2 separate regions of the Homo sapiens genome follow, and region 2 is linked to region 1. The links come from fine-mapping of genetic effects on gene expression. A gene starts in region 1. The other region holds a variant in brackets. All regions are shown on one strand. Distances are between the middles of the regions.

Region 1 (5,387 bases):
CTATTTTCCTTAGCACTATGACATAATTACAACAGAGGCAGAATGTATGTCAGGTTAGTTTTAATGTTACTTACAAATATTTGCTTTCAGAAATTCAAAAAGAATGCACAAATCTGTCATGTCTTCTCTACTGTGTAAAATATGTCCTATACTAATATATGTAATAACATGTTTGAACCACTGTTAAATTTGCCCTACTTAGGTACAATCTTCCCCTTTATTTTTCAATAATTAAGTTTTTTTTTTTCCAAATATCAGATAGCCTCTCGGACATGTGAGGTCAGAAATGAGTAGAGGTTATGTGCTATAATCCAAATCTGATCAGCCAAGGGCTTCATTTTAAATCACTTAAATTCATTTTTAAACCAATAATAGAAATGTTAGCTAAGAGCAGTAATATGTCTAAGAAAACTCATTTGGATAAGAAATTAAATAATAATCAAGAAACAATGACACATCTTTCTCAAATGATTCCATATATGATAACTTCATGTCAACCAATTCATTAACTGTTCTATTGTCCTGTCTCATTACCCTAAAAACTTATGGCCCAAGATATTTAGAGCTTTCAACACTGAGTAATCAAAACAACTCTAAAACATCTCTACTTTTTTGTAATAATTGTAACTTAGCTTACTCTTATAATTTCTAAAACCAATCCCCCATGAATACAGATGCTTTTATATACTCACTTAAGTAAATAAGGAGGTAAAAATATACTCATTCTACCATTATCAACAATTAAATACAAGGAAGCCCTTAGGTATAATTAATAATAAGCTGCTTTATTGAAAGAAATTCTCTGAGATAAGTACTTTTACTTTTCAATCTGGTTTTTAACTTATAAGGGGTTTTTATTAAAAAGTATGTATTATACTGAGAAAGAAATTAACAGTTAAAGATAAAAGGGATAAACTTTTTCTAATCACTATTAGACTCTAGTCAGTATAAGTACTACCATGTCAAAAAACTTAGGATTTGTTAAAAATCAGGTCTGTTTTGTCTAAGTTGCAACTCCTACTGTATCTACTGTATATGTAACAATGCAAGAAGAATTAGATTCAGAATCCATTTGGCAGTGATAAAGAAAAAAATGCTGAAATGTTATTGATTCTCTCCCTCTTGTGCAAAACAAACTGAGTCAACTATATTTTTCCTGACATAACACAAAGGTTTTATTTAGATATTACAAAATATTGGCAAATGTTAGACTACATGTTTTTTATATATATGTATAATGAACTTATTAACCCTTTTGTAGAAAGAAGAGTGTCCTACTTCTGTAAAAAGAAATGCTACAGCTACTGACATGGTGATGTTAGCCCCAAGAGGAATACTGCCTGCAAAAGTTTTTGATGCAGAGATATTCAGCCTTAGGAGACACCTTAAACCTGTCACTGGCTGCTGAGCCCTGTCAGAGTTTATAACCCGCTGTGTCAAAGTCACAGTCTCAGCCCTGCCCTCTCCAAAGTATTTTTCACATTCTCTCTCCAAATTAAGTTCATTCTAATTCTCCAACTATTCTAGTTCCAGGATTTTCCTCCAATTATTATCTCCTTACAGGCATGAAGAAATCGCAACAGAATTTTCATCTGGTCTTTCAAACCATCCTTATTAACTTTCCCTTTTCCGCCCCCCCCCCCTTTTTTTTTCTAGAGCTTTTCAGAACTAAAGATAAAACAACCAACCAACTGAAGTCAGAGTAGGGTGGGAGTTAGCATGGATTAGGGCTGAGGTTGAAGGTGGCAGGAGAAGTGAGCCAGTAGGGTTAGATTTTTCAAGCTTTTTCTAGATAACCACCCTTAAATCTTAGAACCAACCAATGTTTAACAAAGCAGGCTTCCAATAGCCCTTGAACAATAAACGTTTAAAAATCAGTTTTCCAGTAAGGCTGCCCATACTGATCCCATATCGAAGTCTTCTAAGGGCTCTTCCAAAAAAAAAAAAAAAAGAAAAAAATGCTTAGCGAACCACTTCTCAAATAGGAGCTACTGAAGTTATATAAGTCAAGTTATTCCCAGGTAAAATGAATAAACTGTCCACAGCATTGGACATTGGGCATTGAAAAGCATCAGCATATGCTTCACTTTAGAGAAAAGAAAGACAGAAGCACAGTTTACTTACTAAAGCAGCCGCTCCAGTCCTCCTTGGAAACCCTGAGGAGTCTTCTCTTTTCTTTCCTACCAGTCAAATAAAGAATTGTCTTTCTATTCCACACAGGCCCAGAATAAACTGCAAAAAGGGATGGCACATGCACAGCAGCCCGTCAGGGTTTGGCTTTGGTGGGGTGCTTCGATTTCTGATTGTTTCAAAAGTGGGATCTTCTTTTCCGGAGGGAGGGGGCAAAGGAAGAAAAAGAAAGCGCGCTCGGAAAGCCGGCTTGGGTCCTGCTAATTATTCTGAAGGCAAAGTACCTGCACTCTCCCCGCCGAGGCTGGCTGGCGGCGCCGCGCCGGAGGGGAGGAGGCTCGGGAGGAGGAGGAGAAAGAGCAGCGGGAGGACTCGGGCTGGGAGGGGAGCGCAGGGTTGGGGAGGCCGATGAGCGGCTCCCGGCTCCTCGGAGAAGCAGCCGAGACGGCAAGGAGGAGGCGAGGCTCTGTCGGGGCGAGGCGCTGCCCCCACGCGCTCCGGCCGCCGGCTGCGGGCGCGGCTGGGCGGGGAGCCGAGGCGGCCGCTCCCGCACTCGCTCGCTCGCTCGCTGGCGCTCCCTCCTCGTCTCGCTCGCACTCACAGGCACACACCCCACGTCTCCAGCAGCTGCCGCTCGGCCTCACGCACTCACCTGCATTTCCTTAACGAGCCACTTGATGGCTGCCAGCGGCGTGGGCCCCGCTCCGGCGGGCGGGGGCCGGGGCGGGGAGAACGCGGCGCGGGATGCTCCGAGCGCCCGCTGGGGAGAGAAGCGGCGGCGGCGGCGGCGCTGCGGGCGCGCCAGATGGGGCGGGAGGAGGGGAGACCCGGCACCCACCGGCCCAGAGCTGCCTGACGCGGCCTGGGCGGACCCCGCCGCCCGGGTGCCTAGGCACGATTCCAGGGATCCAGGGTAAAGCGGTTCGCGCGGGAACAGGAGGATATGTCAGGCACAGGCTATTCCCCATCACTATAGCCACAGAGGACTGGTCCAGATGCGGATCCCGATCTGTGCTTCTTCAGGTGTTCGCGTGCTTTCGGTTATTATTATTATTATTATTTTCCGAGGGAGGCTGTCGGTAACACCTAAGGGGTAGTGGGTGTTAATAGCTGGGGGACGTACATTTGATTTGCAATGGAATCGATGCTTATGAAGAGCAGACTTAGGGAGGTGAAGGGCAGGGGCACAGGGGTTGCTTGGCGGAGGGGGTGTACTTCGGCTGAGCTGGATGGAGTTTTCAGTCGGGGCGCTTGGCAGTCTGGCTGGGCTTGAGGGAGGGATAGAGCTCTGCCAAGGTGGTAGCTGAGAAGGGAAAACCTGTACAAGAGTTGCTGAGAATATGCCTCGCTGCAGAGGAGAGGACATGGATGCAGGGAGCGGATTCTTCCCCACCTCCTCCTTACCCCAAGGTAGAGTGGGGTATCGGAGTGCATCAGATGTGGTGTACCACAGACTCGGGAGACAGGGGAGGAGGAACTTAGACCCCCAGCGAAACTAGAAATAAGGTTTGGAGCTGGGGGGAGAAGAAGGGGCAGGATGAGAGAAAAACAGCAGGAAGCTTTTTGTCATTTTACTATCTTTCATGTCTCATCAGAGCATACAGCTATAGGCAACAAATGCTCTGTCTCTTGATAAACAGAGAGCAATGTCACCATGTCGGTGCGTTTTCTAAAAAGCCAAAATAATTATCCTGTTTGTAATATGCAACACAGAGCATTCCAGGTACCATCTGGTCAAAGGTTCTGTAAGCACTGTAGAAGAAAACAAATAAAAAAAGAACAACGAAAAACCAGTTATCCATCTACTTTCCTTATATGTCAATGATCTAATCGCAGAAATGTCACTTTCTCCCGAAGAGAAATAAAGCTTAGTCACTATAGGTGGAATTTTCCCCAGGGTCCCTTCACCTTTTTCTTTTCATACCTTCTCCACTGCTTGCTGTGTCCCTTTGCTCTTTAAAAGGGACCCTTCTCCTGAACCCACGCGCTGCCGGGTTCCCTGCTCAGCCTCCCTAAAGCCACGGAGCCTACCCATCCAAGAAGGTTCCCATGCACAAACAGTCATCATCACTTAAAAAGGTTCTTGGAAATGACAAGATATGAACGAAAAAAAATTACACCATATGTGCAAGTGTGTGTGCATGTGTACATATTTTTGTAATTATACAAAGCACTTGCCCCTCTTACGGTGCTGTCTCCCCAAGATGATGATGACTGACTCATATTCTCTCTCTCTCCCTCCCTCCTTCTCCCTTTCTGCACAAATACACACCACTCACTCCTGTCTCAGTTCCTTCCTGTCAGTGTTCAATAATGGTTTTACATGAACTTTCTGTTAGGCAGCCTCTGACTACCAAGGGCGAGTTGGAGTGGATTGGTAGGAGGGAGGCTGGTCTCAATGATGCCGCTCTGTTTCCTGCCATCCCTCAGTCATTACATACACTACTGTACTTAATGCCAAGTAGAAGCAGAAATGATTTCCTCTCTTGCTAGTCACAATAATATATTTGTCCTCCCTCAGAAACACAAGTAATTAATAATAAAAGAAATAATGCATCTTGAAACCATGGGAAGAGCAGATGGAGGCTGATGTGGTTGTGTTAGTCACCTTTTCTGTTGTTGTTGTTGCAAAGACAACGTGACCACCTCTCCCTTTCTACTGCTTCTGGTGGGTTAAGCAAAGCATTTGGCCCTTTTACTGTATTCTCTTTTCCATCTTTCCCTTGACAATAGTTTGTGTGTTTTAAGTAAAGATTTCATTCTGCCAACCCGCAGGAAGCTTTTAACAAGATGCAGCTGAGCGTGTCGATATCTTATATCTTTTTACTGCTGCATGGGGGTGTTCAGCAACTTGAAACTCTTCTCTACTTCAGCTCCAGGCTGGGATCTCACAGAGACAGTGCTCCCTGGGGCTGATTTACTCTTGCTCCTGTACAACTATCCTTTGGTGTCCTCTGGAAAACAAAGAATATTTTAAACAATGGAAGAATCAGTGTTATACTCAATCCCCTTCCTCCTACCTCCTCCCCACATAATAATATCACAAATGTTCAATGGATTAGCTTATTGTAGAGATTTTATTATTAATTACATCTGAGAATTGGATTGAGATATCTTACTTGAAGGTGATTGCACCAAGCTTAAGGAGTTAAGAAAATTTTATTATCTAACTACCTAGCTACACTTCCTGTAACATTATAATTTATTTCTCCTTCTTCAATAAAAAGGCAGATGCAAATGTCCGCTTTAAGTTATTG
Region 2 (5,387 bases), 28 kb after region 1:
CATATCCCCCTGTCTTTCTGTATCACGTCCTTCAGGCCTTGCACAGCATCCATTTAGCAGTGAAGTCTTCTCTGACCAAACTATTTAGATTGTGGCCCCTTGGCACATCCTTTTCCTCTGCTTTATTATTCTCCATTGCCTTATTGCTGTCTGCATATATTCTTATTAATTATTTGCTTATGTCTATTCCTCATTAGAACATGAACTCCAATAAGGCAATTTTTTTTTCTGTTTCCTTCTCTGATATGCTTGGCATATAGCAGATTTTCAACAGGTATTAATTGAACAGATCTTACTGTGCCAACATGGGTCTGTCTTTAAATGCCACATACATGGCTAAAGCACCTCAAAAGATCACTCCTGGAGAGACTGTAATTTATTCAAGAAAACAAAGATTGACAGGGTGTAGGTTAGAGTCTGAAATCTGCAGCACTGCTCAGCAACGGTCAATTGAAAGGGAGCCAAAATGTCTGCAGAAATACATTAATAAAGACTTTAAATGTTAATATTGTTTTCTGAGTAAGAGCATAAACAAAGATTAAGACTTTAAAGTAATTTTAGTGAAACAAGAACCAAGCAATTCAGTAAAGATTACATGAGGCAAGAGAATCAAGAGGCACAATAGTGAACCAGAAAAAGCAAGGCCGTGTGCTTAGCCACCTAAGTTACATGTTACCTGGGTTCTCTGATAGGAAAGGAATAGATAGTGATAGAAGAAGCCATTGCACATCTATTTTGGTTTATATAGCACAAGGCTGAAGTGTACATTGTTGTTCCCATTTCCGAGAACATAATAAGCAGCTTTCATCAAATTGTATTGGTATCGTCACAAAATCCCAAGCCCCTTTGAATGAGACATTGAGATTATCTGGAAAAATGCACAATATTACTGATGAGGCAAGATCCTACTGCTCAAATTTCACTGACTTAAATAGGACATCATCTTGTCAGAATTCAGCCCCTGCGAGTCCAGGTAAGCCCTACAACACACTAACCATACTCTCTGTCAGTACTATTATCTGTAACATTATTACAATGTACAGCAACCAGTCTTCCACTTGTTCTATAGGGGAGGCAAAACTTTACTTCTACTCTTGTAGGGTCCTGACTGGGCCTGAGAATTAAATTGACATAAGCTAGAGCAACATGAGAAAAGCATACAATTTAATATGAGCATTATGTGATAAAACGTATTAGTCTGTTCTTGCATTGTTATAAAGAACCACCTGACACTACGTAATTTATAAAAAGAAAAAAAAAGAGGTTTAATTGGCTCACAGTTCTGCATGCTGTACAGGAAGCATGCCTGAGGAAGCCTCAGAAAACTTACAGTCATGGTGGAAGGTACAGAGGAAGGAGGCACATTTTACATGGCCCGAGCAGAAGGAAGAGAGAGAGAAGGGGAAAGTGCTACACACTTTTATAGACAACCAGATCTTGTGAGAACTCATTCAATATTACAAGAATAGCAAGGGGGATTTCTATGATCCAATCACCTCTCACCAGGCCCCTCTTCCAACACTGGGGATTACAATCTGATATGAGATTTAGGTGGGGACACAGTCCCAAGCCATATCACATGGAAAGACTCATAAGGAAATAAAGATTCAAAGAAGTGGCAAAACCTAAAGGTTTTATATTAGTTTGGACAAAGAGAGACAATTGTTTAAAAGTAATTGTATTATCTGGGGACACTAAAGGAAGAAAAAAATTACTTTAACACTATCTTTACAGATTCTCTCATAGATGACTCCCCAGGAAAGAATGTTTCTTTTCTTCTGGTACAGGGAGAGCATCTTTCACTTGAGAGTTTTTATCTCCAGGTTTCAGGAAGAAAGGAGGGATTAGAATGCCCTTTTTGCATTTGATCTTTTTCAGGTGCCTTTAGGTCAAAGTAATCCTTATATCAAATTTGCGTATTTTGAGGAACATATTCTGCTACCCTTCAGTTTCAAATGCAGAGCATGGCTGTGCCAACAAGGGAATCCCTGAAGTTTCTTTTGCCACCTAAAAAGAAAGAGAACATACTCAAACTGCTTTCCATGTTTCCTGCCACAAACAGAGCTTTGGATACTGAGATTTAATGGGCTGTGAGGAGGGGGGTGTGTGTGCCTTCTTGAAGAGGCTGAAGTTTAGATTAACCATTAACATAGTAAGCAGATGTTCATTGACAGGAGAGATGAGTGGGAGCTG[TTTA/T]TTATTATTATTATTATTATTATTATTATTATACTTTGAGTTCTAGGGTACATGTGCACAACATGCAGGTTTGTTGCATATGTATACATGTGCCATGTTGGTGTGCTGCACCCATTAACTCATCATTCACATTAGATATATCTCCTAATGCTATCCCTCCCCCCTCCCCCGACCCCACGCTGATCCTTCTCAGATGGTGTTCTCAGCTCACTAGTACGTTTTTATCGAATACCAATAAATTAACCTTCTTGTTTCGGTTGTTCTAAAGTATGTCCACACAGTTCTCCCTATTTATGCCTTTATTTTCATCCTTCGCTGGAGTTGGGCTGACATAATCCCGTTAAATCAAGATATCAGAACAGATGGATTCTATCTGTGTTAGACTGGTTTTCCTTCTTCTTCTTTGCATTTGTCATGTCCAATTATTTTTGTACCCACCTAACAGCAATATTATAACAACTAGCATTTATATCACTATATACAATGGGCACAATAGCATTTCATAAGCTGCTTTTGGTTTAAAATTTGCAATAACTTTGTGAGGTAGGTCACTAGCCGCATTTTGCAGATAATTAAAATAAGAGGTAGGTAATTTTCTTAAATTATAAATTTCAAATGGCAAGAAAAACATTTAAACTTGTATTTTAGGACCCCAAATCAATGATTTTATATTAATTGAAAATATACCTTTTTGATTTGTTAAATGTCTGTAGAACAGAAGCAAAAAAACTATATTTTTTACGTTGCATTTACTTCTTCTCTAGTCAAAAGTAACAGAGATAAAGCTAAATAAAGATGATTATTGGTATTATGCATATTAAACTCATTTTTTAAGCCCATTAAAAGGAAGGCAAAAGGACCAGTTGTTTAGTATATTATGGTTTGTGTTTACTCTGTCAATATAATCATGAAATACAAATAAATATTTATTGAGCATGAGAAAGGAAGCATCAGTTTGCTAATCCCCTCCCCCTACAATGAAACTATTTTGAACAAAGATACTTGAAAATAAGTCACATTTTGAAAGGACACATAAAGTACACATTCCTAATCAAACAAAACTTTACACTGATTTTCTTTTTCCTTCAAAGGGACTGAAGTTGTAAGGATGTGAAAGTAGAATTAATTTTGTTTCGTCGAGTTATTGACTCCTAGGTCGATAGCGTTTTAATATCCATCATATTCAGACTATCTAAACTGGATACCTAAATTTCCTCTGGGAATTTCTTCTTTTCTTTTGTTTTCTTTTTTTAGAATTTAGTAAAGGAAATCTTTTAGATTCATTTATCTGAAACAAACACACTGTTGGACTTTAAATAACTGAAGAAGAAGCATATTTCAAACAAATCTTTCAGCAATATGATTTCCAAATCTAAAATTTGCTCTGGTTTATAGCTTAGACTTACAGTCAGCTAAGATACTCAGGTTTTTTAGCCTTAATCTAAATTTAAATAAAGGTTACATTAATTTCCATCTTGCAATTCTTCCTTTTCTTCATATTGGTCTTTTCAAAATGTCACTTAATTTTGAACCTCATTATTTTTCCACTATTTTTCCTAATAACTACAGTTTCTCATCAATAGAGGGTTTCCAGATTTTCTAAAATTTCTTCATAACACTAATGTCGAATAAACTCAGTACAAAAAATTGTTATAGTAATAGCCTTTAAAATATGGGTCTTACATGAAGAAAAATACATCTAGTGTGAATAAACTTTTAAAATTATTTTTATCCACAAAATCTGTAAGAATACCAGGTACCTATTTTGGCAAATACAAGTTTGATTCACACTTAACTCCTCCACTCTGGTTTAAATGTCACTTTTAACTTGTTCAACATTGCTCAACTAACATGAATAAAACATCTTATATTATATAATAATTCCTGTTTTGTCAGGTAACCTTAAATGTTCTCTTAAGCTTTTTACTTGCCCGATAATATCAGTTCAGAATTGATGTCAACATTGTAAATGATTATTTTAGCTATTCTTATACATAACTTTTCTATCATCTATAGTAACATAATTTAAGTGGTTACTAAAGTACATCTTTTTATTAAAGGCTTATAAAAAACACAAAGAGAGCTGTAATAATAACAATCACAATATGGCTTTAATTTTAAGAGCGATTTAATATCCATTATGTCATTTGACATTCTCAATAATCCAGTAGTTAAAGGGCCAGTTATTATCCCTCTTTTATACAGAAGAAAACCGGGACTCGTAAAGTTTAAGTGACAAGTCCAAGGTCATTTTGCTAATATGTGGAAATGCAGTCATGAAGGTCAGTGCTTTTTCTATTCCACAAAAAAGCAACACTGCTTTGATACAACTTTGAACGTTGATGAAGGAAAAAATATTTTCTTATTGCTATATATAAGAAGCAAAATGCAGCATTTTTACTGTAGCTCTGAAACAGAGTTAATTGGCTTTGTGCATTTCGATGGTGCTTATAGCGTATATCTTATTTATGAAGGAAAAAAACACATTTCGTTCCTAACAGTTCTGAAAATAAATACAAATTGTATTGAAAGCAAATACATAAAAGAAGTAATGGCATGTTAGGGGCTTTTGTTGTTGTTTTTAAATGAAATTTTATAAGATAAAAATTATCCAGATGGTTTTGTTCCATGAAAAGTATCTTGAAATGCTGTCCATTATAAATCCTTTATCCTTATTGCAGCTTTTTTTTTTAAGATACACACATATCAGAGAAGACAGCATAGACAAAGACTGATTTCTTAAAATTAAACCGATTAACAATTACTTTGTTAGGTTAATATAATGTGTTGCAATTTATTCATTAAGTGGCTTATAAAGCTCAAGTGTTCAATTTTTGGCACTCCACTTTAATATTAGCTATGCCACCTTAGTAATCATTTACCCAAAGACCATTTCCAACACACATCTGAAGAAGGTCATGATAATTCTAGTAAAACACCCACCAGCATTGCCAGGCTAACCATCCATCTGATCCTTTAGAGCCAAGTAAAAAAATATTAAATCCAAAAGTTCTGTATCAAAACATATTATTAGTCTGCCAGAATTTTGGTAACTTGAAATAAATTAGGGGAAAGAACACACATTCATACTAAACTTAAACCATTTACAACTCTTGAAATAAAAGTTTTTTTATTTTTCCCTAAACTTTCTGACAATTTAGATATTTATGCTCTCCTAAATTTCTATAAAA

Alleles and levels. Positions count from the first base shown, and alleles are read on the strand shown. Sizes are in standard deviations (SD) of each study's normalised expression.
For the expression in prefrontal cortex of the gene that starts at base 2,933 in region 1, T is the high allele of the variant in region 2 and TTTA is the other (moderate effect, 0.62 SD a copy in ROSMAP).

The links. PIP is the estimated chance that this variant, and not a neighbour inherited with it, causes the effect.
Region 2: its variant is the best candidate, but not a certain one, in a credible set for the expression of PTPRD-DT in prefrontal cortex (ROSMAP, PIP 0.85).

Annotation. Positions count from the first base shown.
Region 1 is chr9:10,610,274-10,615,660 of GRCh38, forward strand. PTPRD-DT (PTPRD divergent transcript) reads left to right here and starts at 2,933. Exons shown (of 3, transcript NR_110696.1): 1 at 2,933-3,153. It overlaps PTPRD (protein tyrosine phosphatase receptor type D), which reads right to left and starts at 2,729. Exons shown (of 46, transcript NM_002839.4): 1 at 2,415-2,729; 2 at 2,125-2,232. RefSeq lists a silencer at 2,674-2,883.
Region 2 is chr9:10,638,685-10,644,071 of GRCh38, forward strand. No RefSeq gene overlaps it. Among named protein-coding and RNA genes, the nearest start is that of PTPRD-DT, 28 kb to the left of the region's middle. The variant TTTA/T (reference allele first, on the strand shown) is at 2,194.